4 separate regions of the Homo sapiens genome follow, and all the other regions are linked to region 3. Evidence: fine-mapped expression QTL. A gene starts in region 3. Each other region holds a variant in brackets. All regions are shown on one strand. Distances are between the middles of the regions.

What was found.
Region 1: its variant is fine-mapped to the expression of NSFL1C in whole blood (TOPMed, PIP above 0.99).
Region 2: its variant is fine-mapped to the expression of NSFL1C in whole blood (INTERVAL, PIP 0.97).
Region 4: its variant is fine-mapped to the expression of NSFL1C in whole blood (TOPMed, PIP above 0.99).

What each region holds. Positions count from the first base shown.
Region 1 is chr20:1,482,615-1,490,720 of GRCh38, forward strand. All of the region lies in intron 1 of SIRPB2 (signal regulatory protein beta 2), which reads right to left. Among named protein-coding and RNA genes, the nearest start is that of SIRPB2, 4.8 kb to the right of the region's middle. The variant T/C (reference allele first, on the strand shown) is at 4,658.
Region 2 is chr20:1,500,907-1,509,012 of GRCh38, forward strand. No RefSeq gene overlaps it. Among named protein-coding and RNA genes, the nearest start is that of SIRPB2, 14 kb to the left of the region's middle. RefSeq lists an enhancer at 1-225. The variant G/A (reference allele first, on the strand shown) is at 4,474.
Region 3 is chr20:1,462,952-1,471,057 of GRCh38, forward strand. It overlaps NSFL1C (NSFL1 cofactor), which reads right to left and starts at 3,898. Exons shown (of 9, transcript NM_016143.5): 1 at 3,769-3,898; 2 at 1,378-1,475. The coding sequence starts at 3,873. It also overlaps a transcript of SIRPB2 not described here. RefSeq lists an enhancer at 3,127-3,628 and a silencer at 3,923-4,192.
Region 4 is chr20:1,436,537-1,444,642 of GRCh38, forward strand. It overlaps NSFL1C (NSFL1 cofactor), which reads right to left. Exons shown (of 9, transcript NM_016143.5): 9 at 5,630-7,375. The coding sequence ends at 7,213. Among named protein-coding and RNA genes, the nearest start is that of NSFL1C, 26 kb to the right of the region's middle. The variant T/C (reference allele first, on the strand shown) is at 4,793.

The sequences.
Region 1 (8,106 bases), 20 kb after region 3:
TGGAGTGCAATGGCACTATCTCGGCTCACTGCAACCTCCGCCTCCCAGGTTCAAGCAGTTCTCCCACCTCAGCCTCCTGAGTACAGCTTACTTCACTTAACATAATAATCTCCAGTTCCATCCGTGTTGCTGTGAATGACTACATGATTTCATTATTTTTTTTTCACGGTTGAATAGTATTCCATTGTGGGTGTGCTTGGGGACACTATATATATGTATTTTTTTTATCAATTCATCCATTGATTGACGCTTAGATTGATTCCATACATTTGCAATTGTGAATATTGCTGCAATAAACGTAGAAATGCATGCACTCCTTTGATATATTGATTTCTTTTCCTGTAGATAAATACCTGTTCTAGGATTGCTGGATCATATGGCAGTTCTATTTTTAGATTTTTGAGAAATCTCCATACTGTTTTCCATAGTGGCTGTACTAATTTACATTCCCACCAATAGTGTATAAGAGTTCCCTTTTCTCCTCATCCTCATCATTTTTTTTTTTTTTTTGAGAGGGAGTCTTGCTCTGTCACCCAGGCTCGAGTGCAGTGGCACCATCTCAGCTCACTGCAACCTCCGCCTCCTGGGGTCAAGTGATTCTCCTGCCTCAGGCTCCTGAGTAGCTGGGATTACAGGCACATGACACTACACTTGGCTAATGTTTGTATTTTTAGTAGGGACAGAATTTCACCATGTTGGTCAGGCTGGTCTCGAACCCCTGACCTCAGGTGATCTGCCCACCTCAGCCTCCCATAGTGCTGGGATTACAGGCACGAGCCACAGCACCTGGCCTTTTTTTGGGTCTTTTTAACAATAGCCATTCTAACTGGGATAAGACGATATCTCATTATGGTTTTGATTTGCATTTCCCTGATGAGTGATGTTGAGCATATTTTTTCATATACCTCTAGGCCATTTGTATGTCTTCTTTGGGAAATGTTTATTCATTCCTTTCCTTTGCTCATTTTTAATTAGATTATTTATTTGTTTGTTTGCTTTTTTAACTGTTGAATTGTTTGAGTTCCTTGTATATTCCAGATATTAGTCCCTTGTCAAATGGGTACTTTGTGAATATTATCTCTCATTCAGGAGGTTGTCTCTTCACTCTTTTGATTATTTTTCTGCAGTGCAGAAGCTTTTTAGTTTAATATAGTCCCATTTGTCTTTTTTTTGCCTTTGTTGCCTGTCTTTCGAAGTCTTAGCCACAAAACCTTTGCCTAGAGCAATGTCTTGGAGTGTTTTCTGATTTCTTTGTATTGTTTTTCAGAATTATCTTGTATCTTACTGATCTTCCTTAGTATCGATATTTTGTGTTCTTTTTCTGGGATTTTGTAAATTTCTTCTTGATTGGGATGTGTATTGGTATAATAGACCAAGGGCATAGAATACATAGACCAATGGTATAATAGACCAATGGCACAGAATAGAAAACACAGAAATAAATCCATGTATTTACAGCCAATTGATTTTTGGCAAAGGTATCAAGAATACACATTCAATAAATGGTGCTGGAAAAACTGGATATCCATATGCAGAAGAATAAAGGTAGACTGCTATTTCTCACCATATACCAAAATCAACTAAAGATGAATTAAAGATCTAACTGTAGGACCTAAAACTATAAAAACTACTAGGAGAAAACAGGGAAGGGACTCCAGGACACTGGTATAGGTAAAGATTTTATGACTAAGACCTCAAAAGGGTCAGGCAACTAAGACAAAAATAGACAAATGGGACTATATTAAACTAAAAAGCTTCTTCATAACAAAAGCAACTATCAACACAGTGAAGAGACAAACTCTTGAATGAGAGAAAATATTTGCAAAGTACTCACCTGACAGGGGACTAATCTAATATCCAAAATATACAGGAAACTCAAACAACTCAACAGTTAAAAAAAATCTCATTAAAAAGTGGGCAAAGGACATGAATCAACATCTCTCAAAAGAAGACATACAAATGGCCAACAGGCACATGAAAAAATGCTCAACATTACTAATCATCGGGGAAATGCAAATCAAAACCACAATGAGATATCATCTTACCCCAGTTGGAACGACTGTTAAAAAGGCAACAATAAAAAAAAAAAACAAAATAAATAAACAAACCACCACAAATATATGCTGGTAAGGTTGCAAAGAAAAGGAAACTTTATACATGGTTGGTGGGAATGTAAATTAGTACAGCCACTATGAAAAACAGTATGGAGACTTCTCAACAAACTAAAAATAGAAATGCCATATCACCCAGCAATACCACTACTGGATGGCCAGTATGGAATACTATTTGGCTATAAAAACAAATGAAATTCTGTCATTCGTAGCAACATGAATGAAGATGGAGTTCATTATGTTAAGTGAAATAAGCCAGGCACAGAAAGACAAACATCACATGTTTTCACTCATACGTGGAAGCTAAAAAAATTGATCTCATGAAAGCAGAGGGTAGAATGATACCAGACGTGGGGAAAAGTGAGTGTAGGGAGAGGGGCATGAGAGAGATTTGTTAATGGGTACAAACATACAGTTAGATAGAAGGAATAAGATCCTGCCATTTGATATCAGAGTATGGTAACTGTAGTTAACAACAATGTATTGTAGATTTCAAAATAGCTTGAAGAGAGGACTTAAAATGTTCCTAACACAGATAAATGAAAAATACATGAGGTGATGGATATCCTAAATACTTTGACTCATTTATTACACATCCTATGCATGGAACAAAGTATTACATGAACCCCATAAATATGTACAAATGTTATGTATCGATTAAAAAAGAAAAATTGGAAAATATTTTGAACTGAAGGAAAATGAAAACATAATATAAAAATTTGCGGGATTCTGTTAAAGCAAGGGGAAGTTTGTAGTATTAAATGCCTATATTTGGAAAGAAGAAAGGACTCAAATAAATTACCCACTTTCCACCTTAAGAAACTAGAAAAAAAGGCCAATAAACTAAACTCAAAGTAGTGAAAGAAAGGAAATCATCAAGCTGGAAATGAAACTTAATACAGTAGAACACACACACACACACACACACCACACACACACACACACACAGAAAAAATCAATGAGAAGAAGAAAATCTTTGAGAAGATCACTAAAACTGATAAATCTCTAGTCAGATTGAACAGAGGGGACACACACAGAAAGAACCTAAATTATTAAAATAAGGAATAAGATTGGTGATACTACTACAGATTTTACTCTTATTAATAGAATAATAAAAGAATATTATGGAAAACTTCAAGTCATACATATTTGACAAATTAGGTAACATGAACAAATTCCTTGAAAAAGATACACTGCCAAAGCTTTCTCAAGAAGAAAAAGACAACCTGGTTAGCCCTATTATCTATTAAAAAGTTCAATCTGTTATTAAAAATCTTCCCAGAAATAAAGGTCCAATCCAAGAAAGTTTCATTTGTGAATTTTCCATATCTTTTTCTTTTCTTTTCTTTTCTTTTTTTTTTTTTTGAGACAGGGCCTCACTCTGTCACCCAGGCTGGAATATGGTGGCGTGATCTCAGCTCACTCCAACCTCTGCCTCCCAGGTTCAAGCGATTCTCCTGCCTCAGCCTCCTGAGTAGCTGAGATTACAGGCATGCACCACCATGCCCGGCTAATTTTTATATTTTTGGTAGAGGCAGGGTTTCGCCATGTTAGCCAGGCTGGTCTTGAACTCCTGGCCTCAAGTGATTCGCCTGCCTCAGCCTCCAAAACTGCTGGGATTGCAGGCATGAGTCACCATGCCCAGCCAAATTTTCCATATCTTTAAGAAAGAGATAATACCAATTTTATACAAATACTTTTAGAAAATTGAAAAAAGGAGCATACTTTTCTAATTATTCTATGAGTCCCAGTGTTATCTTGAAACCGAAGCCTTTTCCTTTCGAGAAAGGAAAATCAATATCTCTCATGAACATAGATAAAAAATTTTACACAAAATTTTAGTAAACCGAATTCAGCAATCAGCAATATTTAGAAAGTATAATACATTATAATCAAATTGAGCTTATCCCTGGAATATAAAGTTGGTTTAACATTCAAAAATCAATCAATGTAATTTACCATATTACTAAACTAACACACACACACACGCATATACATGCACTCATATAATCATCTCAACAGAATGCAGAAAAAGCAGTTTTCAAACTTGAACATGCATTCCTAATAATAACTCTCAGCAAACTGGGAAGACAAGGAAGGTTTTTCAAGTTGATAAGGGGCACCTGTGAAAACCCTACAACAACTCTATCAAGCTTAGTGGTGCAAAAATCAATGTTTTCCCTGCAGATCAGGAACTAGACAAAGATGCCTGTTTTTACTATTTCTATTCAATTTTGTAGGATAGGTACTAACTGTGAAAAAGGTAGTAGGAAATAAAAGACATCCAGATTTGAAAGAAAAAAGAAAACTGTCTTTATGTGCATATGACATAATTAAAATTTAAATGAAAATTTCTTAAAAAGGCTACTAGACCTAATAAATGAGCTTAGCAAGGTGGACGATAAAAGATCAATGTACAAAATTATATGTATTACTATACACTAGCAATAAACCACTTGAAATTGGAATTTTAAAATTTCCAGTCATCAATGTTATAAAAATAGAAAATATTTAGCCAAAAATGTAAAGGAACTGCAAACTGAAAA[T/C]GTATAAGCCATTGCTAAGATAAAAAAAATCAAGCCTAAATAAATAGAGAGGTACACACTGTTCATATGTTGGAAGATTCAATATTGCTTAGATGTCAATTCTTCTCAAGTTGATATATAAACTCAATGCCATTCCCATTCAAATCCTAGCAGGCTTCACTTTAGCATTGATAAACTAAATCTAAAATTTATAGAATAGCCAAAACCATTTGAAAAAGAATAAAGTTAGAAAACTAATACCACCTGCTTTCAAGACTTAGATAATGTTACAGTAATCAAGACAATGTGGTATTGCACAAAGATAGATAAACATATCAGTGGAACTGAATAGAGAGTCTAGAAATAGTCCATGCAAATAGAGGCAACTGATTTTTTAAAAAGAGATGAGGTCTCGCTATGTTTTCCAGGCTGGAGTGCAGTGCTATTTTGGGTGTGATCGTCATAGCACACTGCAGCCTCAAACTGCTAGTCTCAAGCAATCCTCCTGAGTAGCTAGGAGTACAGGTGCATGCCATGGCTCCTAACTATAATTATTTGATATTTGACAAAGGTGCAAAGACAATTCAATGGAGAATGGGGAGTTTTTTCAACAATGGTGCAAGAACCATTGGAAATACATGTGCAAACAAATGAACTTTGGTTTATATCTCAAACTATATAAAAATTAACTCAAAATAGATCATATAACTAAACATAAAATGTTAAACGATACAACTTCTAGCTGCAAACATGGAAAAAAACTTTGTAACTTTGGGTTAGGCAAAGATTTCTTAGATGTAACACCAAAATCATGATCCATTAAAGACAAATTGATGAATTGGACTTCATAAAAATTAAGAACTCCTGCTGTTCGGAAAACACTTGTAAAAGAATAAAAAGACAAGTCACAGAGTAGGAGAAAAATCTTTGCAAAGCATATATCTGGCAAAATATTTGTATCCATAATATATAACGAACTCTCAAAACTCAATAATAAGAAACACACTTAAAAAATGAGAGTCGAATAGACACTTCACCAAAAAGGATGCATGATGTAAAAAATGTTCAGCATCATTACATATTAGGGAGTTAAAATCACAGTGAGAGGTTGGTAATCCTAGGACTTCGGGAGGCTGAGGCAGGCGGATCACTGGATCCCAGGAGTTCAAGACCAGCCTGGGCAATATGGTGAAATTTTGTCTCTACCAAAACAAAAAAACTAACCAACCAACCAGACAACCACAAAAATTAGCTGGGTGTAGTGATGTGCGCTTGTAGTCACAGTTATTTGGTAGGCTAAGGTGGGAGGATCGCTTGAGCCAGGGAGATGGAGGTTGCAGTGAGCTGAGATCAAGCCATTGCACTCCAGCCTGGGCAACAGAGTGAGACCCTGTCTCAAAAAAAAAAAATCACAGTAAGATATTACTATGTACCCATTAGAATGACTAAAATTAAAAAGATTGACCATAATAAGTGTTGGTGAGGAGGTGTAGGAACTGCCATCCTCCTACATTGCTGATGAGAATGTAAAATGGTACAACTCCTTTGAAAAACACTTTGGCAGTGTCTGAAAAAGTTAAACGTATGGCAACCATATGATCCATTTTATTCTCAGATATTTCCCTAAGAGAAATGAAAGTATATATCCACACAAAGACTTGTACATGAATATTCATAGATGCTTTATTTATAATAGCCCTAAACTGCAAACAACCCAAATGTCTGTCTACAGGTGAATGGGAAAGGGTTTATCCATACAATGGATAGACATGAGAAGAAATGAACTATTGACATATGCAACAACATGAATGAATCTCAAAATAATTATGCGGAGTAAAAGAAGCCAGCCAAAAAGGAGTATAACTGTGTGATCCTTATTATATACAATTCTAGAAAATGCAAACTATAGTGACAGAATACAGATCCGTGGTTGTTTTGGAGACAAGGAGGAGTGGCAAGGACGAATCACAAGGAAACTTTTGGGCGCTGGATATGTTCATGATGCTGATTTTGGTGATGATTTCACAAGTGTGAAATACACCCAGCACTCACAAAAAAAACTTATCAAATTGTGTACTTTACATATGTACGGTTTAATATATGTCACTTACACTTCAATAGAGCTGTTAAAAATAAATTATTTGTAAAGATGAAGCCTGCGTGTGTGAGGAGAAAGAAGCAATGGAGGAGAGGAAGAAGGAAGCACTCAGAAAGTCTTATCTCAGCTAGGGGTGAGTCTGGGGAAGTGAACACCAGGGAAGAAGCTGGAGCCTGGACTCAGTCCTGGTGCCCACACCCCTTCCCTCCCTCTCCCCTTCTGAGTCCCCTTCTGTGTTGTCACTTGGGCTTTAGGAGGTGTCCTAGGAGGTTTGCCTCTGCCTTGTCAGTGGAGCTGGACCTTCTCATCTATTTTCCATCTGCATCCTCTGCCTTTCATGGTTCCTGTATGGGGCTCCCTTTAAAAGCCTTATAGAAAATGTGTTAGCCCCAGTCTCCTCTACTGCAAAATAGGGGCACTCATATTTTTCTCGGGGCTGCTGTGAGTATTAAATAGAGAAGTGGTGAGGCTCAATCCTGGGCCAGCTACGTAATTTGTGAGGCCAAGTGCAAAACGGGAATGCAGGTCCCTTGTTCAAAAACTATTGAGCAACACAGCAGAACATTAAACCAAGCATGGGGCCCTTCTAAGCAGGAGGCTCTGTGCCACTATATAGAGGGCACACCCAAGAACCAGCCCTGACTCAGCTTGAGATGCAGCTGGACTCAAACATTCCAACTGACTGGTTTAAGCAACTTCTCTTATTTTCCATCTATTCTATTGCAACAATCATTGGGAATATTTTTTATTCTGAGTAGTTTAGATTTCTGATTTCCTAGTCTAGTGCCTAAAACATAGCAGACACTCAAAAGTACCTGTGGAATGAGACCTAGCAATTATGATTCACATCTTAGAATTGAGGAAATCAGCTTAGAGAATTGAAGTGGTGTCTTGAGTCATACGGCCAATGAGTAAGGGAGCACCTAGGTCCGACCCCACACCTGGGTTCTGCCAGGATCTCTCCTGGGGATGGCCACCCCGGAGGACCAAAGATGTCATGGACAGAATCTAGATCTCAGTAGAGCCTGGAGCAGAGGCCCAGATGGGCAGGAGATGGAATGAGCCCACTGAGAGCCAAGTATCCCTGCCTGGTAGATCAGAGAGTTCTGGACTCAGAGGCTGAGCTATATATTCAGGGGTCTCAAGACTCTGGAGCTAACCTGGCCTGCCCCTGAGTTAGAGGAAACATGGGAATGATAATAATAATCGCCAAGAGTTATCAAATCTTTGTTATGCCAGGCACTTATGGGTATTATCTTGTTAAATTCTCCTAAGAAAGTCCCAAGGTGGGTCCTATTTTTAGCTCCATTTTACAGTTGGAAAAACTGAGGCTCAGAAAGAAATTACTTAAACTGGTTAGTGGTGAGGTTTG
Region 2 (8,106 bases), 38 kb after region 3:
GCTAAGAATCCTTGTTTGAGTGTTCAATTTCCTTAGGATTTTGAGCATTATTCCCAACATCCAAGATGCAAGACAAAGTCCTCCTCATTCTTCCCTCTCCTCTCCTCAAGTGGAGGGAAGAGGCCTCTTTCGTGAGCTGTGCAGCCTGGGGTTAGGGGAAGGGTGATGCCAGCACCTTCTTAGCTGCCCTGGCTTGTGTCTCAGTAGGTTGCATGTTCCCTCAGTCCACTGTCTCTGGGCCCAGTTCAGCACTAGAACTTGCCTAGGAGTTGTAGCTCTTGGAGCCTAGACTGCCTTTCAAGTTTATTTAGAGCCCCAGAGTACTTTAGCCCACAGTGGTAAGGCTTGCAGGAACTGAAGTTCAGACCACTGAGATTGGATTAGCAATTCCCCTCTGGCTAAGGCTGTTTAAATGCTCCCTCTTTGGGTGGGTAACAGCTGAGTTTGGTCCCATTTTGTTTTCTTTTATAATAGGGCAGCACTGAGTTCAATGCTTCACAACTGCTGTGATCTCCCTTTCCCCAGTGCACAGAAATGCTCTCCACACCATGCTGCCACTGCCAGGGGTTAGGAGAGGGGTGGTGTTGGCTATTCAAGACTTTTTTTCTACCTCTTCGGTGCCTCTTTCAGTGATATGAAGTAAAACCAGGTATTGTAACTGCTCATTTGATTTTTAGTTCTTATGAAGGCTCTTTTATTTGTGTGTACACAGTTGTTAAATTAGTGTCCTTCCTGGGGGAGATGATTGCTGGAGGCTTCTATTCCATCATCTTGCTCTGTTGTTTTTATGTTTTCTCATTTATCTCTTTTAACTGAGGTATTTATTTGCCTTTAAAGTAATTACTGACATGGAAGGACTTACTATTTTCGTTTTGTTACTTGTCTATATATATGGATAATACATTCAATATATTTTAATATGTCTTGTCCAGTGGTTTTTGCTCCTTTTCTCCTTTGCTGCCTTCTTGTATGTTTTGTACTGACATATTTTGATTCTCTTTTCAATTCTGTTTGTGTATACAGACAGTACCTGAATGTAAGCCCAGCATAAGATAAAAAGTTCCTATGATTTACAATGGGGTTATGGTTTCTACTAAATGTGTATTATTTTGCATAATTGTAGAGTTGAAAATTTGTAAGTTGAACATAAGTCAGGGACAGTATGCTGTGTTGCCAGCATCAAATGCAATTTTGACTTACAATATTTTTGACTTCTGATGGGTTTATTCTTATGTTATCCCATCATAAGTTGAAGAGCATTGGTATTCTATTCATATTTTATTTGTCATCACCATTGCAACTACACAAAGAGACTTAAAGTTATAGCAAGATATTTTAAACCGATAACAACTTAACTTAAATTGCATATAAAAACTCTACTTCTTTACTTCTCTGCCCTCTTTATGTTACTGTAACAAAACAAATTACCTCTTTTTATATTGTGTATTCATCAACATAGATTTTTAGTTACTTCCCATGCTTTCGCTTTTAAAATTCTATACCAAATTCAAAAGTGATTTATACAGCTATGTTACAATACTTCCAGATTTTATATTTGTCTCTATGTTTATGTTTACCTGGTAGATTTATACTTTTGTATGGCTTTGTGTTGCCATTCATCATCTTTTCATTTCAACTTGAAGGATTCCTTTCAGCACTTCTTTCAGGGCAGGTCTAATGGTGATGAATTCCCTCAGTTTTGTTTATCCAGGAAAGTCTTCATTTCCCCTTCATTTTGAAGGCAGTTTAGTACTATATAGTATTCTTTGTTGGCAGTTATTTTTTCTCTCATCACATCCCACTCCTTCTAGCCTACAAGGGTTCTGTTGAGACTTTAGCTGATGATTTAATAGGAGCTCCTTTGTATGTGACAAGTTGCTTTTCTCTTGCTGCTTTCAAGATTCACTCTTTGTCATTTTTTTTTTAAAACAAAGTTTCCCTCTGTCACCCAGGCTGGAGTGCAGTGGCGTGATCACATCTTGCTGTAGCCACAAATTCCTGGGCTCAAGTGATCCTCCCACTTCAGCCTCTTTTCTATTTTTGACAGTTTAATTGTGTCTTAGTGTAAATGCTGTTAGATTCGTCCTGGTTGGAGCTTGTTGAGCTTTTTGAATTTGTATGTCTACTTTTTCCCTCAGATTAGAAAAATTTCCAGCCATCATTTTTTTTAAAAGTCTCTGTGGTGCCTTCTCTTTTTCTTGTCTGTCTTAGATTCTCATAGTGTGTAGGTTGTTCCATAATGTTACACATAGTGTCCCATAAGTTTCTTATGCTCCTTTTACTTTTCTTAGTTCTTTTTTTCTCCTTTGCTTCAGTAATTTCAAAACTCCTGTCTTTGAATTTGCTGATTCTTTCTTCTCTTGGTAACATCTGTTCCTAAGCCCCTCTAGTGGATTTTTAAATTTAGTTATTGTATTCTGCAGTTCCAGAATTTCTGTGTGGTTCTTCTTCATAGCTTCTATCTCTTTTTTGATATTTTCTTTTTGTTCATCCATTGTTTTCCTGATTTCATTTAGTTGTCTGTCTGTACTCTCTTTTAATTCATTGAAAATTCTTATGATTATTATTTTGCATTTTTTTGGTCAGATAATTCGTGTATTTTTTTGGGGTCAGTTTCTAGAGATGTAATGTGTTTCTTTGAATAGGCCATGTTTTCCTGTCCCTTTATATGTCTTCTTATCTTCTCTTGGTACTTTGGCATTTGAAAACTCAGCTACCCCGTGCAGTCTTTGTGGTCTGGTTTTCTACAGGGAGGACTTTCTCCAATCAGCCTGGCTAGAGAATCTGGAGACCTGTCAACCCTTCTCTGGGAATGCACCCTTTTGGGACTTAGTGTGTAATCACGTAACGGAAGAGGTCTTTCTATTGAAGCGCTCCCTCTAGTGTCTGCCTATGATGCTGCGGTCTGGCTGGTGCTGCAGTAAGCCACGGTACTGAAGTTCCACCTAGTTTCTGTCTGTGATACTGCAGACTGATGCTAGAACAAACTAATAGCTCCACCTATTATTTATCTGTGATACTGCATATTTTGGTGCTAGACCAAGTCATGTTGATCATCTTCGTTTTCAGTGGCCTCAAACCTGGTCCTCATTCCCGTCAGCATTTAAATTCAGGCAAGATGGAAACTAGTCCTTTGGCAGCACCCCAAAAAGTCAAAATATTGGATCAATGTTCCACTCCTTTCCCCTCCCAAAGAGAAGTCAGGAGTTGGGGTTTCTTCCCAGTTTGCATGATTATTAATGCTACTGAGCACCTTATAATATTTAACAAAGTTTTTTTTTTTTCCCAATAAAATAGTGCACTTTCTCAGGGCCATGCTGGGTACTTTCATTAAATTAATACTTCATTTTTTACTTCACTACTCAACGTAGCTGAGCAGTTTCCAGTGTACAACACAGTGACACAGGTTTCCCTTGTCCAGGACTTAGAAATTGGAGCTAGATCCCTCCGTCTTGCTCCTTGGATCTATCTTCCACCCCAGGTCCTATGTAGCCCGGCTCCACTTGGAGTGGGATTTCTTTCAATCACCCTGGTTGTATACCCTGGTCAAGGTCAGCCTTAGTCTTAGGTCTTTTATCAGTAAGGAAGCAAGTCCTCTTCTGTCCGATTTTCTACGTGATGTAATTGATCTGAGCTGTGCTGTTTCGTGAGCATTTATCTGGTAGTCTCCCAACATCCCGGGAAGCAACACCTCCCTAAAGCAGCCTGAACACCTGGATTCCGACTATTTTTTGTGTCTGTTAAATATTTTTAGGCTTCCTTTTGACATGCCTATGTATGCAGCGCTTTTGTTCTCACCAAATATTCAGGCATCATTATTTCGGCAGCAGAATGTCTAGCTAGGAAGGACCTAAACGCCTTCCCCACACCGTGTGTGTGTGTGTGTGTGTGTGAGAGAGAGAGAGAGAGAGAGAGAGAGGGAGAGAGATACGTGTGTTATGGCGAGTGTGTGTTATAGAGAGGGAAAGAGAGATAAATGTGTTATAGCTGCAGTGGAGCAGAAAGACCTCTGCTTCTGGTCAGGGGGATCTGGGTTTAAATCCTGCCCTTGGCCTGATGAGGTGGCAAGAATATGGGCAAGTCATAAATCACCCCAGCCTTAGTCCTTAGTTTCCCCTTTCCTCTGCTCCAGAGGTGGCAGTGAGAGAAAAGAAGAATGGAAGAGCAAGGTGGAAAATAGCCAAGAAGCCCACCATCACTCATATTGAATGAGAGATTGCAATTTTTATTACCTGAATAATAGGTACCATTACTGCCTCTTAGGAGGAATAATTTGGCAGATTTGAAAGGGCAGTGGTGAAGAAGAATGAAGCAGCTTTCTGCTTCAACCCTACTGAGTCCAGCTTGTTCAATAAACTGGGTACAGGGACAGGAACACAAAGGGAGACTGTTCAACAAGTTTGGGTAAACTTGACTTGGAAAGAAATTGGGGAAGGTTGTTGTTATTTTGTATGGGCTTTTCCTTTCTCGCTC[G/A]TCTTGGTCTGCCATGTTAGTAGCCTTTGGGTTCAGCCTCCCAGCACCTTGTTCTGTGTGCTTTATCCTATACACAGGAGCATCCCACAAGTAGGGTTGGCAGTAAAGTTGGCCAGGGGCCACCGATGTGGGTGGACTGGATGTGGCCAGTCATGGTGCCTGGGGCCTCAGGCTCTGTTAACTGGATTTATCCTAAGAAGGGAGGGGCAGGGCAGGAGAGTGCTTGGAGCCAGAGAGAAGATAGAGAATTTCAACCCTGTTACTCAGAAGAGGTGAAGCAAAGGGCAGCTCTTTCTTCACTTTCCCTCCCTGGAACCTGGTAATGACACATGACAATGCTCCACATCAGAGAATGCATCTTTCAGGAGCCAGGGAAATGGTAGACATTGATCAGCCCTGGGTTTGAGGCCAGAACAAGCACACAAACTCCTTCTTACTATCCAGTATTCATTGCTACCTTCCCAAAGAGTGATTTTCATAAATATTGTGATAACTTCTAGCCACAGATCATGGGACAAGCTATTAGAGCTGGCAGGACTAAGGAATGTTCTCTGCAGCCCTAGACCTAGGGGCTCTCTCTTCTTTCTCCCCCTCTGTCTCCTGCTGTCTATTCATCCTTCTCTTCATTTCTGCTCTCACCCCAATATGAGAGATTGTAGGGTGTAGTCACTGATTCATTCAACAAATATTAGCATGCGCTATGTACCAGAACTATTCTTGGTGCTTAGGATACATCAGTGAATAAGGCAGACAAAACTCACTGTCCTTATTAACTGAAGTACACATCCCAATTGGGGAGGCAGGCAATACACAATAATAAATAAAGTAAATAAGTAAATGATATAGTATCTTAGAAAGTGATAAGGCCTGTGGAAAGAAATATAGACCAGGGAAAGGGGGTTGGGGTAAGCAGGTGGTGAGGGGCTGTGAGGGCCAAGGTAAGAACTTTGGCTTTACTTGCAGTGAGATGAGCAGCTGTAGCAAGTTTTGGGAAGAGGTGGGACATGATCTGGCCTTTGTTTGAAAGGATTCCTATGCTGGCTATAGGGAGACCAGTGAGGGGCTAATGGCAGCAATCCAGGAACGAGAGGATGAAGGGTGAAATCTGGCAATGGGGATAGTGAGAAATAGTCAGATTCTGAATATATTTTAAAGCTAATGTAATTTCCTGACATAAAGGGAGCGGGATAAGAGAGGAGAGGAATCAAGCATACCTCCTAGGTTTTTGGCTCATCAGCTGGAGAGATGGAGTTCTTATCAGCCGAAATGGGGGAGTCTGTGGGTGGAGCAGAGTTTTGGGGGATAAGCAGAAGGCCAGATTTTGGGATGTAAGCTTTGAGATATTATTGGGCAGACAAATGGAGCTGTTGAGTAGACAGATGGACATGAAATTCATGGGGGAAGTCCCAGCTGGAGAAATAAATTTGAGTCCTTGAGCTATATTTCAATGATATATAAGGCCATTGGACTGGACAAAAGTATCAGAAGAGAGTATGTGGTAGTTAGGAACAAGGGAGTTTGAACCAGACTGCCTGGGTTCAAACTCCAGCCAGGCACTTAGGAGCTGTGCAACCTTGGACAAGTCAATAAAATTTTGTGTCTCATTTTTTCTCATTTGCAAAATTAAGGTAAGTATAGGTTATACCTCATCTGGTTGTTATGAGAGTAACGCAGTTTATAACACGGAAAGTACTCAGAACAGTCTGGCACACAGCACGCTTTCAGTGTATGTCAGCTACCTATCTGTTTTGCAGCAGATATGAATTGCTCCATAATACCTGAATATTACTTAATTACAGTTTTTTTGGAAACAATCTTCATCTGGTAGAAAAGTTACAAGTGTGGGATAAAGAGCCTCTTTTCAGAAACATCTGTGAATAAATTGCTGGCATATTGCCTTATCGTCCCTGGTTATGGCTTGGATGTTGGTATCTCCCCAAATCCACATGTTAGCACCTAATAGCCAATGTGATGGTAGTAAGAGGTAGGGCCTTTGGGGAGTGATTAAGTCATGAGGAATCCACCCTCATGAATGGGATTAGTACCCTTAGAAAAGAGGCTCAAGAGAGCTCCTCAGCCATCTTTTGTCATGTGAGTACACAGCGTTTATCCCCTCTGCCATGTGAGGACAGGGAGCAAGGTGACATCTTGGAAGTGAGGGCAAACCCTCACCAGATGGTGAACCTGCTGGTGCCTTGACCCTGGACTTCCTAGCCTCCAGAAATGTGAGAAATGAGCTTTTGTTGTTTATAAATTACCCAGCTAATGGCATTTTGTTATAGCAGCCCAAACGGACTAAGACACCCCTGAATATCTCAGTGCGTATTTCCTACAAATAAGAACATTTTCCTGCATGACCACCAGACCATCAAAATCAGGAAATTAACATAGGCACATTATTACCATCTTATCTTTAGATTCCCTACAAGTTTTGCCAATTGTTTCAATAACATGTTTTTATAGAGAAAGGATCCAGTTACATTTAGTTGCCATACCTCTCTAGTTTTCCTTAATATAGAAAAAAAATCTCCTTTCCTTTACTTTATGACCCTGACACTTTTTAAAAGTATAGGCCAGTTATTGTGTAGAATGCCCCTAATTTTGTATTTTTCTAACACTTCCTCATGATGAGAGTCAGGTTTTGGCACCTTTGGCAGGAATATCTGGAAGTGATGCTGTGTTCTCATTGCTTCCAATCAGAAGGCACACAATCGGTCCCATTACTAGTCATGTTCACTTTGATTACTTTGTGATGTCTTCCAGGCATTTCCACTGTATTCTTTTTTCCTTTGTAATAAGCATGTAATGTTAAGATTTTTTTTTCTTAATCCTATGAAATCCAGTTTGAGCATGTGCCTCTACCATGGTTGGAGAGAAAGTGAATAGCAGCTATTTTCCATAGCTCCCCACTCCACTCTTGGATTGGATCAGGGCACCGGGGCTGTTGCCTTCCAAGACAAAGGAGATGAATTCTGGTTCTCAGTCTTTATGGGTCACTATGGCCATTGCTCTTTGTCCAGGCCTAACTGGACAAAGTCCCATTTGAAGTTGGCCGGTTCTACTACCTGCTGCAGTCTCTCTATGACAAGCTCTTCCTTGGGGATATTTGATGAAGCTCCCAAAGTTCTGGTTCTTGAAGCCAAAATCTTCTCTGGCATGAATTCAGCACCTCACAGGCCTGGAAATGTCTAGGGCTTTGCATCCTAGGAGGGTGCAGTTTTCCATAGCTCACTGAATTCACCATCCATTTTGGAAGATACCCTTGTTTGGGCCTCTGCACAGCCAAATGTCCCTCCTGCCTTGCTAACAGAATAGCCATTCCACCCAGCAACAGTTTCAGGGAAACCTAGGCCCTTCCCCAGCCCCAGGAGATGAATCATCATTGGTCCAAGGCAGTTATGGCAGCCAGTCCCCTGAGGCTGGGACACATGTTGAGATGTGAAGGGGAGTTGTCTGGAGGCTTCTGGGGAAAAAATTCAAGTAGCTCACTGTCTCTGTGCACAGAGAATGAATATGGTAAAACAGACAAACACACAAATAAACAAACAAAAAACACTTGTATATGGATGAGTCCAATATCACCTTTATTAAAGCATCACAGAAACTACAGGTTGTGGATTTTGAGCTTTAGTT
Region 3 (8,106 bases):
CTTTGTAAGTATTAACTCATTCAGTCTCCCATGTGGTAGGCACTATCATTACCATTTGACAGGCGAGGAAAATGAGGAACTGAAACGTTAAGTAACCTGCCCAAGGTCACAAAGCTTTTACTTAAGTGGCAGAGCTGGGATTTGAACCAACGCAGTCAGGCTCCTGGGCCCATGCTAATAAACCACTGCCTTAATAGAACTTTGGGATTACTGGAGAAAAGAAAGGAGTAAACATGTAACTGGCATTAGAGACTAAGTTTAAATCTCTCCCCCTCTATAATTCTGACATGCCAACATCCCAACAACACCCTAAGGTGGCTGTCAAAGACTCATACCCCAGAAAATCAGCCATCTCTACTAGCAGCTGCAAGAACAGCACTTACCCTAACAACATGTCCCAAGCAGTAATACCCAGATGTGCCATCACCAACATCTCATAGGTTAGCACGTGCAAACAGTTACAAGATCACTTTCCTCCTACCTCTTTTCTCTGGATGGGAGTTAGGGAAAGAAGAAAGCAATGAGATCTGGGGTTAGTGCTCCTTCTTCGAAGGGAGGAAATATATTTTAAACCTCAGTTGCCTTTAGAGAGAAACATAATTTACCACTTCATGGCAAAGAAACACTGTTGGTTATATTCTGGGGTTGAATTCAAACCCAAATAAAATTTCCTGGCTAAAACATACACTAGAGAGTAGAAGCAATAAGGCGAAAGCAGAGAGGGGAGACACCTCTGCTTACACACTCTCTGTAAAGGTTCAGACACCTTTACAGGAAGCACCCCTGCCTGTCTCCTGGAAGACCAGCATTGTCTCACTCTGCAGAGCACAGGAGTAATCTGCTGTGGGTGCTGTGGGAGGCAGCGACAGGGGATGCAAATGGGATTGCAAAGGTTAACACTGTTTTACCTAGTAAGACAAGGTCTCCCTAATCAACTTGGCAAAGGGTGGGTTACACAGGTTTATTTTGTACAAGACTTCTTAATAAGGTAACGGGCATCCTAAAATATCAAAACAGCTTTCCTAAGTCATTTCGCCTAAACTTTCACATCTATAGCACCCTTGAAAGGAAGTTTTTTGGCTTTTACTTAAAAACTTTAGAGTTGCAGTGGTCATTCCTCATACTACATAAGTAAAAGTCTTAAAAGTAGGTTTGTGGTTTCCCCCAGGATTGAACCATAAACCACACCCAGTTAAAAGTCATGCATCTCTGTATAGGAAATGACTGAGGCCTGCTGGGAAGTACTACCCATTGACTCAGTCTAACCTTCTCATTCAGACCTGGTCCACACACCCAGGCCTGAACGCTCTGGTCAGAAAATAGCTCCTCTTCACTGCTGGAAACACTCATGTAGCGATAATTGAAGCTGGCCCTTACCTGGGGGCTGTGCCTCTGGACACTGAACTGGGGGTTGCCTGCGAAATGGTCACAATGTCTTCATCCCCTCCGTCCTCATAAAAGCTCGCTAGCGCGATCTGAAACAGAGAGGTAGTACCTTGGGACCCTTAAACAGGCCTTCACCTAACGCACATCTCCTTTGAGCACAAAGGAATACAGACATGGCCAACACTTACAAGGTAGCTTGCATCCATGGGCCAAAGAAAATTAGACCAGAAGGTTAACAGCTCAGCTGTTAGTCTTCGTGTCAACTGAAACAAATTCCACCCACTAAGGTGAAAAGAAGGCAGTAAGAATGGCTGGGGTGGAAGACACTCTTTATTCTCATTTTATGAAGAAACGTGATCTAGTAAAAGTAGCACACATTTAGTGAGCATTTACATGCCAGGTTGTTCTGAGCATTCTACATACGTTAATTTGTTTAATCCTCAAGAACTCTATGCTATTAGTACTCTTATCATCTCATTTTATAGTTGATACAGAAGCACTGAGGATTAAAAAAAAATTTGTTCAAGTTTACACAACTGGTAAAGAGAGGAGCCAGGTTCCATCCCTGCTAGTGTGCTTAGGCCCTCACTCTTAAGCGCTTCCAGTACAGCCCGGAGTCAGGAACTGTGGAGTCAGTCCAGGTTGCTACTTTTCCTTTCTTTCAAGTTGTTTCCTAATCTGTGAAATGGGGGTACCTGTCTCACCAACCTGCACACTGGATGAGATAATCCATTAAGATTTATGCATACTCGCATCTTAGGTTTACACATACAGAAGGAATATGGGAATCCTTTGGTCATTTGTGACATCTCTGTCACCAACTCAACGGACAGGCATTCACTAATCACTTGCTTTGCACAAACACAAGAAAGCATTGAGGTCACAGAGATGAAATAGACATGGCCTCTGTCCTCAGGGTCACCAACTTCACAGGAGACAGTGAGCTGTCAAGGGATAAAAGTAATCTGCTGGGAGGCAGTGTGCTGTCTCAGGCCATGTAGTGAACTGGCATTCTCAGGGAGCCTACATTCAAGTCCTGTTCCTGCCAGGCAAGTCACATGCATGATCCTCAGTTTCCCCACTACAATGTGAGGGGAACGAGACAGAAGATCTGTTGGTCACAACACTGTGTGCTTTTAGGTCTTTCAGGTAGAAACTTTTTATTTCTGCCCAGCATAGGGGCTTCCCATTGTGTCTAGGTGTGATCTAGGTGTGATGCTTTACCGAATTCTTATGTTTGGGGAGTAATTTACGTTTGGCAGCAGACTCAGTTCAAATTCCAACCCCGCTACTTACTGGCTATGTGACCCTGAGCAAATTCTTTGCCCTCTGTGCTTCCAATTCCTCATCCATAAAATGGGTCTAGTCTTTACCTCATAGTGTTGCTAGGATCCAACGAATCATATTATGTAAAGTGCTTGGCACATGGTGGTTTAAAGCTTGGGCTCTGTCTGCTTGCAATCAGACAGAACTGGGTTCCACTTCTACCTCTTCTGCCTGGTAGCTAGTGAGGCCTTGAGCAAGTTACTTAACCTCTTTAATCTCAGCTGCAAAATGCGAAGGTTAAATGACAAAAGACATGTAAAGCAGTCAGAACAGCGCTTGGCTCATGGTAGGTACTCAATAAATATTAGTCATCACCGTCATCATCTACCTAAGACGAAGCTGGCCAAGAATATTTATGCAATTCTTTCTACAGTTAATTACCGAATGCTTATTATGTGCCAGGCATTGTTCCAGGCACTGGGAATTCATCAGTGTACAAAAATCCCTGCCTCGTGAAGCTTAAGTCTTCTTAGCAAGTATTTAGTGAATACTCAGTACGTGCCAATGAACTACACAGCAATTTCCACGAGACTCCCATTTTACAGATAAGTTAACTACGCAAGGTGAAGAAGCTCCAACCTTGCGCCACCACCCCAGAGGTATTCTCCCAGCAATTAGGAAGGCTGGGCGGCGGTCAACTCCCGGGCTGGACTTCGGAAGTGGAAATGAGCGGCCACCTAGTCCCGAGTGGGGCTTCACCCAAGAGCTGCTCACTCGGACCAGCCCGGCCTCCAGCAGATACTCGGCGCGGCAGCCACGCCCCCAGGCGCTCCCTCTCCTCGCCGGCTGCCGCAGCGCCCGAAGTCTCGCTGACGCCGCAAGCGGGCGAGGCAGGGTGAAACTGGCACGGCAGAACTGGCTGGGGCTGGCCCGCGTTCCCCCACTCCCAAGCCGAGCAGGCGACGCGTGACAAGCGGTCCCGGGACCATGAGGCCTGGGTCGGGCCGCGGTAGAGCGGGGATGACTGTGCGCTTCGGCCGCCGCGGGCTTAAGGCACCAGGCGCCCGCTCCCAGCAGTCCCCGGCCCACCCGACACAGCCCGCCGCGCGGCGCTACCTGCAAGTCCCAGCCGGCCGACTCGAGAAAGAAGCGGGCCCGGTCCTCCTCGGCGCCCGTCACCGCCACGAACTCCCTCAGCGCCTCCTGTCGCTCCGCCGCCATCTTCGCCCCGTGCGCCTTCCAAAGCGCTCCGGCGGCCGCCGCACAGGCCCAGCCCCGCTGCCGCGTTCCGCTTGCCGGTCGACGAGGCCCAGCCGATGAGGGCCCAGCAGCTGGGAGCCCGCCCGCAGCCCCGCCCCACGCGGTGCCTCACGCAAAGCCCTCCGTGCGGGAAGCCCCGCCGCTCCGCGCCCTCTGGCGACCGCGGCGCGAACCGCAGCCTAACGGCGGGGGTGGGAGCCCGAAGGATGAGAGGCGGGGCGGGTCTTACATACACCTGTGGGCTGAAGGCTCCCTGCAGGAGTCAGATTCCCAGTTATTCATTGACGCAGCCCTCATTTCATTAATTGTGCATTCGTTCATTCACTTACTTGTCAAGCATTTACTGAGAGCTATCAATGGCCCGACGTTTTTCTAGGGCTGTGGATATGGCAGGGAGCAAAACAAAGTCCCTGCTCCCATGCTTCTTACATTCTAGGGGTAAAAATTCAGACCTTGAACAGGCTAGGCCTCCGCTCACAACACGTCCATGCCTCGTTATCTCGCCCCGCATAAAAGACAGTCTCATGGCCTGCCTGCAGGACCCATGAGAGATGGGCCAGTTCCTCCCTCTCATCAAGGGATCCGCTAGCTTCCTCTGCTCCAGGCGCCTTGCCCTCCTTGCTGTTCCTGGAACTTGCCAGTTATCTTGCATTTGCCTCAGGGCCGTTGCATTAGCTGCTTCTGTGCCTGGAGCACCTTTCCCTTACCGATGGGCAAGGCGCTCTCCCCGCTTTCTTTGGGCCTCTGCTCCAAGGCCACTTTCTTAGGCACAATCCTGTCTTCTGGGTCCTCAGCTTCTTTGCCCTCTTGCCTCTCCAAAGAGGAACTTACTTGTTCAGCTTACTTGTTCTTTGTTCTCTATTTTCAAAGCCTAACTTCCTTGTTCTTTGTACCTCCTTACCCCTAGTTACGGTAAACAACCTTCCCGCGGGTCCTAATCTATAACTCACATCTGTTCCCTTGGATACCCTCGCTACAATTGCCATTCCCGCGGAAACTCTTCTTCCTGCCGAAACCGCTTGCCCTACCACTGTAGCCCACATTTCTGCTCCATTTGAACTAGCCAATCGGGATTAGCTTAGATTGCGCAGTCCAGCCCCAGCCAATGGGAACAGGACACAGAAGCAGCGACTAACCGCATTAGGGATAAAAACCCCTTCTCTCTTTTGTTCGGTGTGCTTTCCTGAAGACCAGATGTGTGAGTGGCACCCTTCTGCAGAAGTAAATTGGCTTTGCTGAAAAATCTTTTATTTCAGTGCTGGTTTTCCTTGAGACTTCGAGCTTTAATTTCCAACACCACCGTGGGACACTCTTCCCTTCCTCTTCCTCTGTCGGCCCCTGCTCATTCTTCAGCTCTCAGTTCAGGTGTCCCTTTCTCAAGGAGACCTTGAGAAGGTGCCCAGGCTTAGTCAAAACCCCTCTTAATCAGGTTATGAACAGCACAAAGTCCAGTCTTCCCTCAATTGACACAATAGTTGCTTTCCTGGAAAATTCGGTGTCTTATTAACACTGTGCAAGAAATCCTTTAAGTTTATATGACAAACGAGTTAGGGCTTGGGTTAGGTTATTAGGAGCATGGTTGCAGCCACAATAGGCCCTGGCAGGAGGCATGGGAGGAGGGTCCTTTCTTTGTGGTGTGAGACTCTCCTTTCTATTGCAAGGCCACCCAGGACCAGCCCCGGTCCCTAGGACTTACCCCTTTCATCATTGTGTCAACTCGAAATGCACCCCAACTTTCCAGGAAGTCCAAGAAGCTAGAGGCTCACTCTGGACCTCACGATTGGCAACCAGTAAGGTCTTTCTACCCTGGAAACTGACAACGACTAACCCCAGCTTAAAGATCTGCAGGCGATCAGCTCCTCAAGGTCCAGTTCCCTGGCTGGTATTGGAGTCATTGAAACTCATTGTCACCCCCCCTCTTCATTTTTGTGCCATCAGGGAAAGCTCTTTGTTCGGCCAGAGGGTCCCTGATCCCTCTTCTAGAGGACTTGAGGGCATCCTTTCCCATAACACTACCTGGCAGCTAGTGTTTACTGAGCACTTACTATGCCCCTAGACACTCTGCAAAGAGCCTTAGATACACTAACTCATGCACCCTATGAAGTGAGTTCTATTGTTATCATTTCCATTTTGCAGATGGGGAAACCTAGACTTCTAAAGAGTTTTGAATCCAGGTATGGCACAGCTCCTGAGTCTGCTTCTAACCGCTACACCACACTGTCTCTCCTTAGACTGCAGGACTGTGCTGGTCACTTCCTATGGCTGGTTTCTGGAAGCAGCTCCAGATGACCCAACTGGAGTTTAAGGCAGGGGATGTGAGGGCATGAACTTGAAACTACATTTACATAACACTTATCTAAGTGTCCTTAACAAAACTAGAGAAGGAGGTGCTGCAGGCTCAGCTTTAGCTCCACTCTCCTATGTCCAACCACACCAGCCCCCAACCTCCAGCCCCATCCCACCCAAGCCCCATCCCCAAATTCTACCACCACGACCACCTCCAGCCTCACCTCTACCTCACAGATCCGCCACCAGCACCTGACCCACCCCGCCCCACTTTCCCTTCTAACTCCACCCTCAGTACTAAATGCACCCCACCCTCCAAAGCCCACTTTCACTCCATTTCACCCCCAGCCCCCTCCGGGCTCATCTCCATCTTCCTTCCCACTCCAGTCTCACCCCAGCCCCTCCCTTTAATCCTATCTTCCACCACCTCCCGCCCCACCCCAGCCTTCCTTTGGCACCCCCTCTGCCGTGTCCTCACTGGTGGTGACTTCACTTTGGGCAGGAGCTGTGTGTACCCAGGACTGGTGTCTCCTCTGACCCCCTACTCCAGTCCCCTAAGCGCTAAACCCTCTATAGCTTAGGGGGCCAGGGGAGCTGCTAGGTGGAGCAAATGATTGATTTCTCAGCTGACATTCAGACCTTCCAGAGGCCCCTATACATGGAAGCTGCCGGTACCACTCACCCTTCTCTACTACCTCAGCCTCAGCACTGCCTTCTTCTACCACTCTTCTTCACAAAAGGTGACAGAGCGAGACTCTGTCTCAAAAAAAAATAATAATAATAATAACAACACTACCACTGCCTCAGCAAAGTTGGGACTATTTGTCTCTCTTTTCACAACATCTTCAACTAATGACAATAATAATAAAATAACAGTACTGCCAGCCGGTGACTAATGCTTGGTTGCATTAGTCAGCAGTGAGAACCAATGAAAACTGCAATGAGATTCCCTTTTGCCTTATCCAACTGGTAAAACATTTACAAGTCTGACTGTTAGAGTAGGCAGATAGCCAGAAATAAGCAGGCAAGGGAGCGTTTGGGAAAAGAAGTCCTGGAGACTCCATTCACTGACAGTCAGCGCCACCCACTGGCGGCCAGCAAAGAGACAATGGCTACACTGGCAACTTCTGGCCTTGTGGTTGGGCTCCTCTGGCCCTAAAGGGGACTTATGAGGCCTTACCCAGAGATAACCATGGTAGGGACTTTCCCACTGACGAGCATGTGCACTCCTCCAGTAACTCGCCCTACAGTAGCCTTTTGCTCATTATAATAACAAGCCGGGCACAGTGGCTCATGCCTGTAATCCCAGCACTTTGAGTGGCCGAGGTGGGCGGATGACGAAGTCAGGAATTTGAGATCAGCCTGGCCAATATGGTGAAACCCCGTCTCTACTAAAAAAATACAAAAATTAGCCAGGCATGGTGGTGCGTGCCTGTAGTCCCAGCTACTCAGGAAGCTGAGGCAGGAGAATCGCTGGAACCCGGAAGGCAGAGATTGCAGTGAACTGAGATCACACCACTGCACTCCAGCCTAGGTGACAGAGCGAGACTCTGTCTCAAAAAATAATAATAATAACAACAAAACACACCCCTGAGTGGAGATTTTAAATGCTAATGAGACAGGCAATGTGTTTACTAGCGCGTACAAACACACAACATTCACAGCCAGGGGGACCACCTAAAACATGATTGTAAGTGACGCTCCCTCATGCCCCTGCACGAATAATCATGTAAGATTCTCATAAAGAGGGTCCCCCAGCACCAGCTGCTGCTGGCTCGTTCTTTCAGAGTGTACTGTCTCTTTAAATAAACACTGCTACTGCTGTTTTTTGCCTGATGCTGTTTTCCAGCCAGGTCAGCCCACTCCTTTCTAGGAACGTACTTTATCTTTCTTCAATAAACTCTGCTA
Region 4 (8,106 bases), 26 kb before region 3:
CATACTAAGGTCAAATTTATCGCCAGGCACGGTGGCTCACACCTGTAATCCCGGCACTCTGGGAGGCCGAGGTGGGCGGATCACCTGAGGTCGGGAGTTTGAGACTAGCTTGGGCAACATGGCAAAACCCCATCTCTACTAAAAAATACAAAAATCAGCTGGGTGTGGTGGCACATGCCTGTAATCCCAACTACTCAGGAGGCTGAGGCTGGAGAACTGCCTGAACCTGGGAGATGGAGGTTGCAGTGAGCTGAGATCATGACACTGCACTCCAGCCTGGGTGACAGAATAAGACTCCGTCTCAAAAAAAAAAAAAAAAAAAAAAGAAAAAACTAAGGTAAATTTATCATAAAATTGTGGACTTGCACATGCTGGCTAGGTGGAATAGGCATGTTGCTTAACCTCTCTCACCCTCATATCTAAAATAGAATTAAAAATGGTACCTGTCTTATAGGGCTTGCCTGAGGATTAAATGGGATGATTCATGAGAAATATGTAGTTAATAATGTGGTACAGAAAAATACTCAATAAATAGTATTCATGGGCTGGGCGCGGTTGCTCATGCCTGTAATTTCAGCACTTTGGGGGGCTGAGGCGGGTGGACTACCTGAGGTCAGGACTTTGAGACCAGGCTGGCCAACATGGTGAAACCCCCTCTCTATTAAAAATACAAAAATTAGCTGGGCGTGGTGGTGCGTGCTTGTAATCTTAGCTACTTGGGAGGCTGAGGCAGAAGAATCTCTTGAGTCCAGGAGGCAGAGGTTGCAGTGAGCCAAGATCGCACCACTGCCCTCCAGCCTGTGCAACAGAGTGAGACTCTGTCTCAAACAACAACAACAACAACAACAAAACAACAACAACAACAACTGGTATTAATGCAAACAAAACCACACTGTGAATCCACTGCTCACTTACCTGACAGGCAAATGCTCACAGCGCACCCTGCTGGCGAATCTGTGGGAAAACAGGCTCTCAAGTCCACTGCGGGTGCAAGAGTAAATAGCACTTACACATCTGGGAATTTACTCTTTACACATTTGCATATACAAGCTTTGCCACTGTAGTACTGTTTGTAACAGCAAAACCCAGGAGACACCCACATGTCCTTCACAACAAATGACCTCCAAAATCTACTGTTAAATGGAAAAAGATGTAGATAGTGGTGGGCAGGCTGACACACTTGTGAATAAGAATCGCTGCAGATCTATTGGATCTAAGATGCCAGGAGTGACAAAGCCACCATTAATTTATATGCCACTAAGAAAGACCATTGCTGATTAAATTGGCACAATGCTTAGAATTTTATATTTGAGAACTCATTTAGACTTATTTAGACATGAATTTATATCATATCAACTTTGGGCACAAATAAAAAGGAAACATATAGACAAAATAAATATGTTAAGGTATTAGGTGACACCAGGACTGCCTTCTTGTATGATGCATTCTGATTTCAGAGTTGCTAAAATATGGGAAACAATGGATGCCTCAGAATAGACAGAGAGTATCGGCTTGTATTTAGGAACTCTGCAAGGACAACTAAGAAACTTATAGTGGGGAGGGAGGGAGGGAGGGGAAATTGGGCAAATGGCATGGATAAGAAGGGAGGTATCTAAGACATTTTTTGGCACCATGTAAATATATTACCTATTTAAAAGTAATTTTTTTTAAAAAGGCCATTCCCAGGTCATAGTCAAGATTTTGAACTTCATTTAGAAGTACAGCTTCTTCCCTCTCTCAGGGGCAGGGTCGCAGGGGACATGGGGAAGGGCCTGCTGGTTTCCTGTGGCCGGTGCAGATGCTCTGGGCTTCCCTCTAGGGTGCACTTGTTGGTTCTTCAGATCTTGGTTCACTTCCCTTGAGGAAGCCAATAGATTCTCTAGCTGGCTGCTTGTAACTCCTCCCTCAGTCCTGCAACCCAAGGTCTATCTTGCACTAAGGTCCCTCTGTCCTTCCAGAGCAAGACCCAGGACAGTCCAGTCTGGCTGCCTCATGGGTCCACATTTGGCTGATGGGACTTATAGCACAAGCTCCTTCACACCAAGTTCTCTTTGCTTCATCAGCCTCTTGCTTTCAAGATTGCTCAGGTGTGAGGTGGGTGCCTGGCACCTTCGTCATCTCCAAGCTCTTGAGTGGTCTCCTTGAGACACCAATCCCTAGGCTGAGGGAGAAGGAAAGCTCCCCCTTCCCCTGTGCACTCAAAGCCCTCCAGTAACTTCCTTTAAAGAAAACTCTTCTCAGAGCTCCAACTTGAACCTTTAACGTCTTTGGTGTGGGAAAGAGGCAAGGAGACACACAGCTAGTTTTTGACCATGTCTTTGAAAGCCCTGTGTGTGGACAGCAATTCATCCTGGGAGGTGGAGTAGCTAGGCCCCCTATTGCCTTGGGAACCCAGCCAAATTGGGATGGAAATAATTCCATCTTAGTATATTGTCACATGGATGATCAAACTAAGGAACCTGCCGAGGCCACACAGCTAGTACCCAGCAGGCTGACTCCTAAGCCTGAGCTTTTCCTGCTGCAGGTGGTTCACCCAGAGCTGACTTAAAATAAGCTCATGGTACAGAGGCCAGGCCAGGAGGATGGAGTTAGATGGCCCTTGGTTCAAACTCAGTTGTCATTTATTAGTAGTGTGTCCTTGACTGCTTTCTCCTCTCTGATTCTCCGATCATTTAACCAATAGACGTTTAATGGCCAGGTTGTCTACCACGTGCAAGGCACTCAATTTCATTCTCTGTAAAGATGTGAATAATAAAAGCACCTGTTTCACAGGAGTGTTGAGAATTAATGAGATCATGCTCAAGTGTTTGACAGCGCCCGGCACATGGTAAGGGCTACACAGCAGCACCTATTGTCATTCATAAAGTTCCTCCTATGCGTCAAGGGCTTCACAGACATCTTTAATCCCCATAGTCTAAGAGGTAGGAACTACCATTATCCCTGTTTTCTGAATGAGGAAGCCAAGGCTCAGAGAAGCTTAGGTGACTTGTCTAAGGTCATGCCTGGTATAAGATGGAACCTAAGTTCAAAGCCTGCCCCAAGCCTCCACATGCCCTCTGAGTTTGTCTCTTGAGGAAGGACAACTTTTTTGCCTTTTCGTCAGAGAACCAACCTTTAATCACCCTTCACAACCCAGTTCAAGGGTGTCCGCTTCCGTTTTCCCTGTCCCTCCCTGCCCGACCCAATCGTCCCTCCTGCCACTGCCTTTGTGCCTGCCTTTTTCACAGCAGTAGAGCCTCGGGGTCAAGGGCTGTGGCTCTGCGTTCAGGTAGTTGGGGATTCAAATGCCTCTTACTCCGTGTGTGGCTTCAGGCAAGTCCCATCACCGCTCTAAGCCTCAGTAACTTCTTCCATAGTGGGCTAACCATGGTACCCTTGGGTTGTTAAGGCACAAACGGCCTGGCACAAAGTGAGTGCTCAAATGATGGCAGCTGCTATTACGATTAGTAGTAGCAAGTCCTAGTCCTGGCATTGAGGTTCTCAGTTGCTCAACACGGAGGGTAACTGGCCCTTAATAAACCTCTTGGTCCAGCTGAGACAGGGCAAGAAGGGACTGGGGACATTCCTGTCACACCCGCTTCCTACCCCAGACACATCTTCTTAGCACCTGTTGCAGGAACACCCTGTGGCTCTAGGTGCCCTTTAGGACGCCCCCTCATGGCTGAGAACCTGCTTTGGGAGGAGGGACTGCAGTTCCCAAGCAGGCACCACATGGGGGTGCTTTAAAAGCCTTCTTGCCTTCCATCCTTTTAGATAAGGTCTGGTCTCCATTTCACAGGTTCATCCAAGCACGCACTTGTTGAGGATCTACTATGCGTCAGACACCATGCCACCTGCTCCGGATACAAGAGTGAGGAACAGGCATTTCTGCCCTCATGGAGTTTATAAGCTAGTGGGGGGACCAAGGAAACAAGCACGTTAATAAATAGAGTACATATTAGATGGAGCAGAGAGAAGAAAAATGAAGCAGGTCAAAGGGATGGAGGGTGGTGGGAAGGGGCCAGGGCCTATGGGGCTCTGCAGGTCTTAGAAGTTTCCAGGGGTAATGGAAAGCTCCCAAGGACGTTAAAGGATGGGAGTGGCAGGCTGTGGTTAATGGTGCCAAAGAAGCCCTTTGCCTGGGTGGGGCAAGGGCAGAAGCTGGGGGACTGATGAGATTCTGCAGTCATAGGTGAGTGACTACGGAGGCTGGCCCAGATGATCGTAGGGGAGGGGTGACCAGGGGCACCCAGAGGATTGCTGATGGACTGGACATGGCATGAGATGAGGCCACCGAAACAGAGAGGCACAGTCACAGTGCAGGAGCTCAGACTGGGACCTGGGTCAGATGCTACAAGTCAAAAAGTGTTTTCTACTCTGCTTCCCTGTCCTGGCCTGGGAAGAGTGTGGCCTGGAAGAGGGGGACTGGGATCCCCAGCCACACACCCTCAACACAGGAGCCCAACGCCCATTTAAAGAAGGAAGGCCTTTTATTTGGGCCTGGGAATCAGGAGTTGGCAGTTCTCTCTGAAATGCTGGGAGTTAGGAGACAGGGAGCAGCAGGGAACCCTTATTTCTGTACCAGCTGCTTCCCCTGAATGAGCTCTAAGTCATCTTTAAGCTCCTGGCAGGGAAGGGCATGCTTTGTCCTATGGATGGGTATGAAAAGGGCCGCTGCCCCTCTGGAAGACACTTTGGAACGCCATTAAAGCCATGCCTAGCTCTTGACCACATGCCTGCTTCTTCCCTGGCCTTCTACTGAGGAAGCAGCCGGATCTGTGCAAGACTCTACCTACAGGGTTGCTGGGCATGA[T/C]TGTTAACAAGATCAAACAACCCACATCCCACAGCAAAGACTAGTTAAAACTGCACTTTTAGAAAGGGCATCATGACAATTACTTTGCCTATTTTTCATTTTGATGAGTTTTGGGTATCTATCAAGGCATATCCAATGAACTGACATGCATCCTTGTCCTGGCCCATTTAATGCCAGGAGGTTCTCTTACCAACCAGTTTTTGGGGAGATCCAAAATGCCCCAGTTGAGAACTGAATTCAGAAGCCCCGGAACCAGTGGCTGAGTATCCTTTTTCTTCTAAACCTGTGAAAACCTATCTGGGTGGATGGGCCTTTCCATCTGGACTGCCCAAAACAGAAAACTAGGGCTGGGAACATCCTTCCCCAGCCTGGAACCAGACCAGTGTGATCCCTGGTCCAAGGTCAGAGGGACTGTCTCTCAACTGTGGTGGCTGCATCAACAATATAGGTAAGAGTTAGATCACCTGCCTCGCTTACTTCCCAGAGGTGCTGGGGGCCCTGTGCAAACTACCGTAGATGATACAGGTTTTAAGTGGGTGTTTTTACAATCTCTTCTGCAATATACTAATTAATTAAGCAGACACTGTGAGAAGGAGGTAGGGGGAGGTCAAGTGTATGTATATGGGCCTGGCAGTTAGGGATGGAGTGTATACTGCACTCCATGGTGGCTGAACGTGGGCTCTGGATGGGAAGAGGCAGTACCTTACCACTTACTAGCAGTGTGACTGGGGCTCAAGGTTTTGCACTGTAAAGTGGGACCTTTGTGAAGCACTTAAGTACTTCTGCTGGCTGCTGTAGTTTCCGTCAAAGCAACCCATTAGAAAGTACAAAACTCCATTGTCCTCATTCTGGTTTTTAATGGTCAAGGTGACAACAGTGTACAGTTTTTCCAGACCCATATGTAGGTTCCATAATCTCCACCTGCTGGAGAAAACACCGTGACAGATGCCATTGCCCCAGCAGGCCACTGCCGGTGTGGGAACTTTGGGATCAAAAGCACCAAGCCAAGTCCCTTGCTCAGGATGGGTCTTGGTTGAAACCACAAGCCCTTCTGCAGTTCTAGGTGGATGTAGTGTTGGTTCTTGGCTCATTGCAGGGGTGAAGCAGGAAAGAGAAAGAGACTGGTGAGGCCTGCTTGGAAAGAGGATTGAGGCACATTACGATTCCAAACCAGGAGATCCTGAGTCAGCACTGATTCTGTCTCTGGTTTGTTTAATACGGGAAAGGGTTCCATCCAAGAGCCCAATAGGCCTCCTCTCCCAAACCTGCATAGCAATCAAACTTATAGGGGTGGTGGAGGGTCTTTACCAGGCTAGGACTACTGCCTATGTTTCTGCAAGTCACAAGTCAGCAGGTCAAAGAACAAGTGTGAAGCAGAACCTGCTAAGCAAAGCCAAGTAGTGACACTCACTTCCAAAACATACCCAGCAGAAGCCTCCTGCAAGTACCAACAGTGACAGGTGCTTGTAGCACAGAAAACTCACCCCTTCTTCAACAGTTGATTTGATTTGCCACACATCACTAGTGAACAGCTCGGTGGCATTTTGACTGTTTATCTTATAGGGCAAGATACCCTGATTCTGAACTCACTTAGGATGGGTTGGCATGAGCTGTATCCTAGTGAAAAAAAATATCCCACCTACCTCCTAGGTCCACTCAAGACTTCTGCACGTGGAGTAAATCAAGCCATAATGGAGCCCCTGAGAATCCCCAGGAGGCGAGCAGTCTGGATGGTAATGGAGGAAAGGGCCAGGCAGGCAGGTGGAACAGAATCTCAACTGGCCAAGACCTGGCAAGATTAGATACCCCAGGGGTTGAGTAAAAGGAGCACAGGGAAATATTTATTTTCACCTTCTGAAGACACTGTGTGCATGGAGCTCTGACTTCCCACTTCAGGGAACTCTGGCTGCCGCCCAGTTTTATCTGGGCAAGTGACATATTCTCGTGGGAACAAGTGGTGGCGAAGCCTCTTTCTACACATTTCCCCTCCTTCCTCCAGTCATCTGTGGGGCTGGCGGGTGGGACACACTAGTGAATAAGCATTGTGTGCCACAAGTTTTTATGCAGAGAAGATGGAAGGAAGTTTCCTCCCACAGGCCCCAAGATAAATATAATTTTAAAGCAATTAAAGCCTGCTTCAGTGGGAGAGTTTCCGTACAACATGCTGGTGATATTCCTTCAATTTTTTTGGTTGTTTTTATTTTTTTTTTCATTAAAGTCCATTGATCATCACAAAAACCCAGGAAATGCAACTAAGGAGAAAACAAACGTCCAACCAAGATCTAAGAACCCAGAGCTATGGAGGAGACGTTGCACTGGACTGCTGGGTGTGCACAAGGGGGCAGGAGGGGCGATCCCCATGGGGCATGGCCACTGGCCATGGGAAACACAGGAGGGAGGCCAGGCAGCTGGCTGGGCGGTTATGTTAACCGCTGCACGATGACAGCATTGAGCAGGTTGGCTTCCTTCAGGGTCTGGCTCTCATCAGCCAGCTCTTTGTTCGGGAAAGTAGTCATGAGGATAAAGCTGGTGGCAGCCATGGCTGGCCGGGCATCCACGATGAAGAGTCGGATGTCGCTGATCCTGCAGGAGTTGGGGAAGCGGTGAGCAGTGCCATCCTCTGCTGTCCATACCCCTGCCCTGTGGAAAGCTAAACACCTCGCAAATCCCCTTTCCTGACTTTCTCCACAGAACAGCGAAAGCTACGCTCAGGCATGTGGGACCAAGTCCCTTCCTTGCCAAGAGTCCTTCACTGTTGTTTCCATTTTCCTTGAGATAAACACCAACAACCCTACTGTGTTCCCAAGGACCTAATTTTATACCACCCTCTTTCCCCTCGTTCTCTTCTGCCCGCTTCTAGTTCATCAGGCCATACTCTCTTCCCACATTTGGGTCCTTCTTTCCAGAGGCTCCCCTGCCTGATCCCCTTTCTGTAATCCTAATCACAACTCAGGCCTCGGATCCAATGCCACCTCCTCAGGAAAGCCCTCCTTAGCTCCTTGGCTCCATCCCTGGCCCTCCTTCCACGTTTCTGGGATGATCTGATTAGTGTCTCCTCCTGCAGCTCATGAATTTCACAAGGACAGTGTGTGTCTCTTTTGTATATCACAGGAGGCACTTAAACTATCTGTCAGAAATTAATGGTCAACTTCTCAGGGCCAGGAATCGTTTCTCCAGACACTACCTGCCTTCTGAACCTGGAGATCATATGACAATGAAACCACCTGGAAACAATGCCTCCTTCCCTAGAGCACTTAAACATAAGTTTCCTTTTTGCCCCAAACCCCTAAAATCTATGCAACTTACAATTTGGC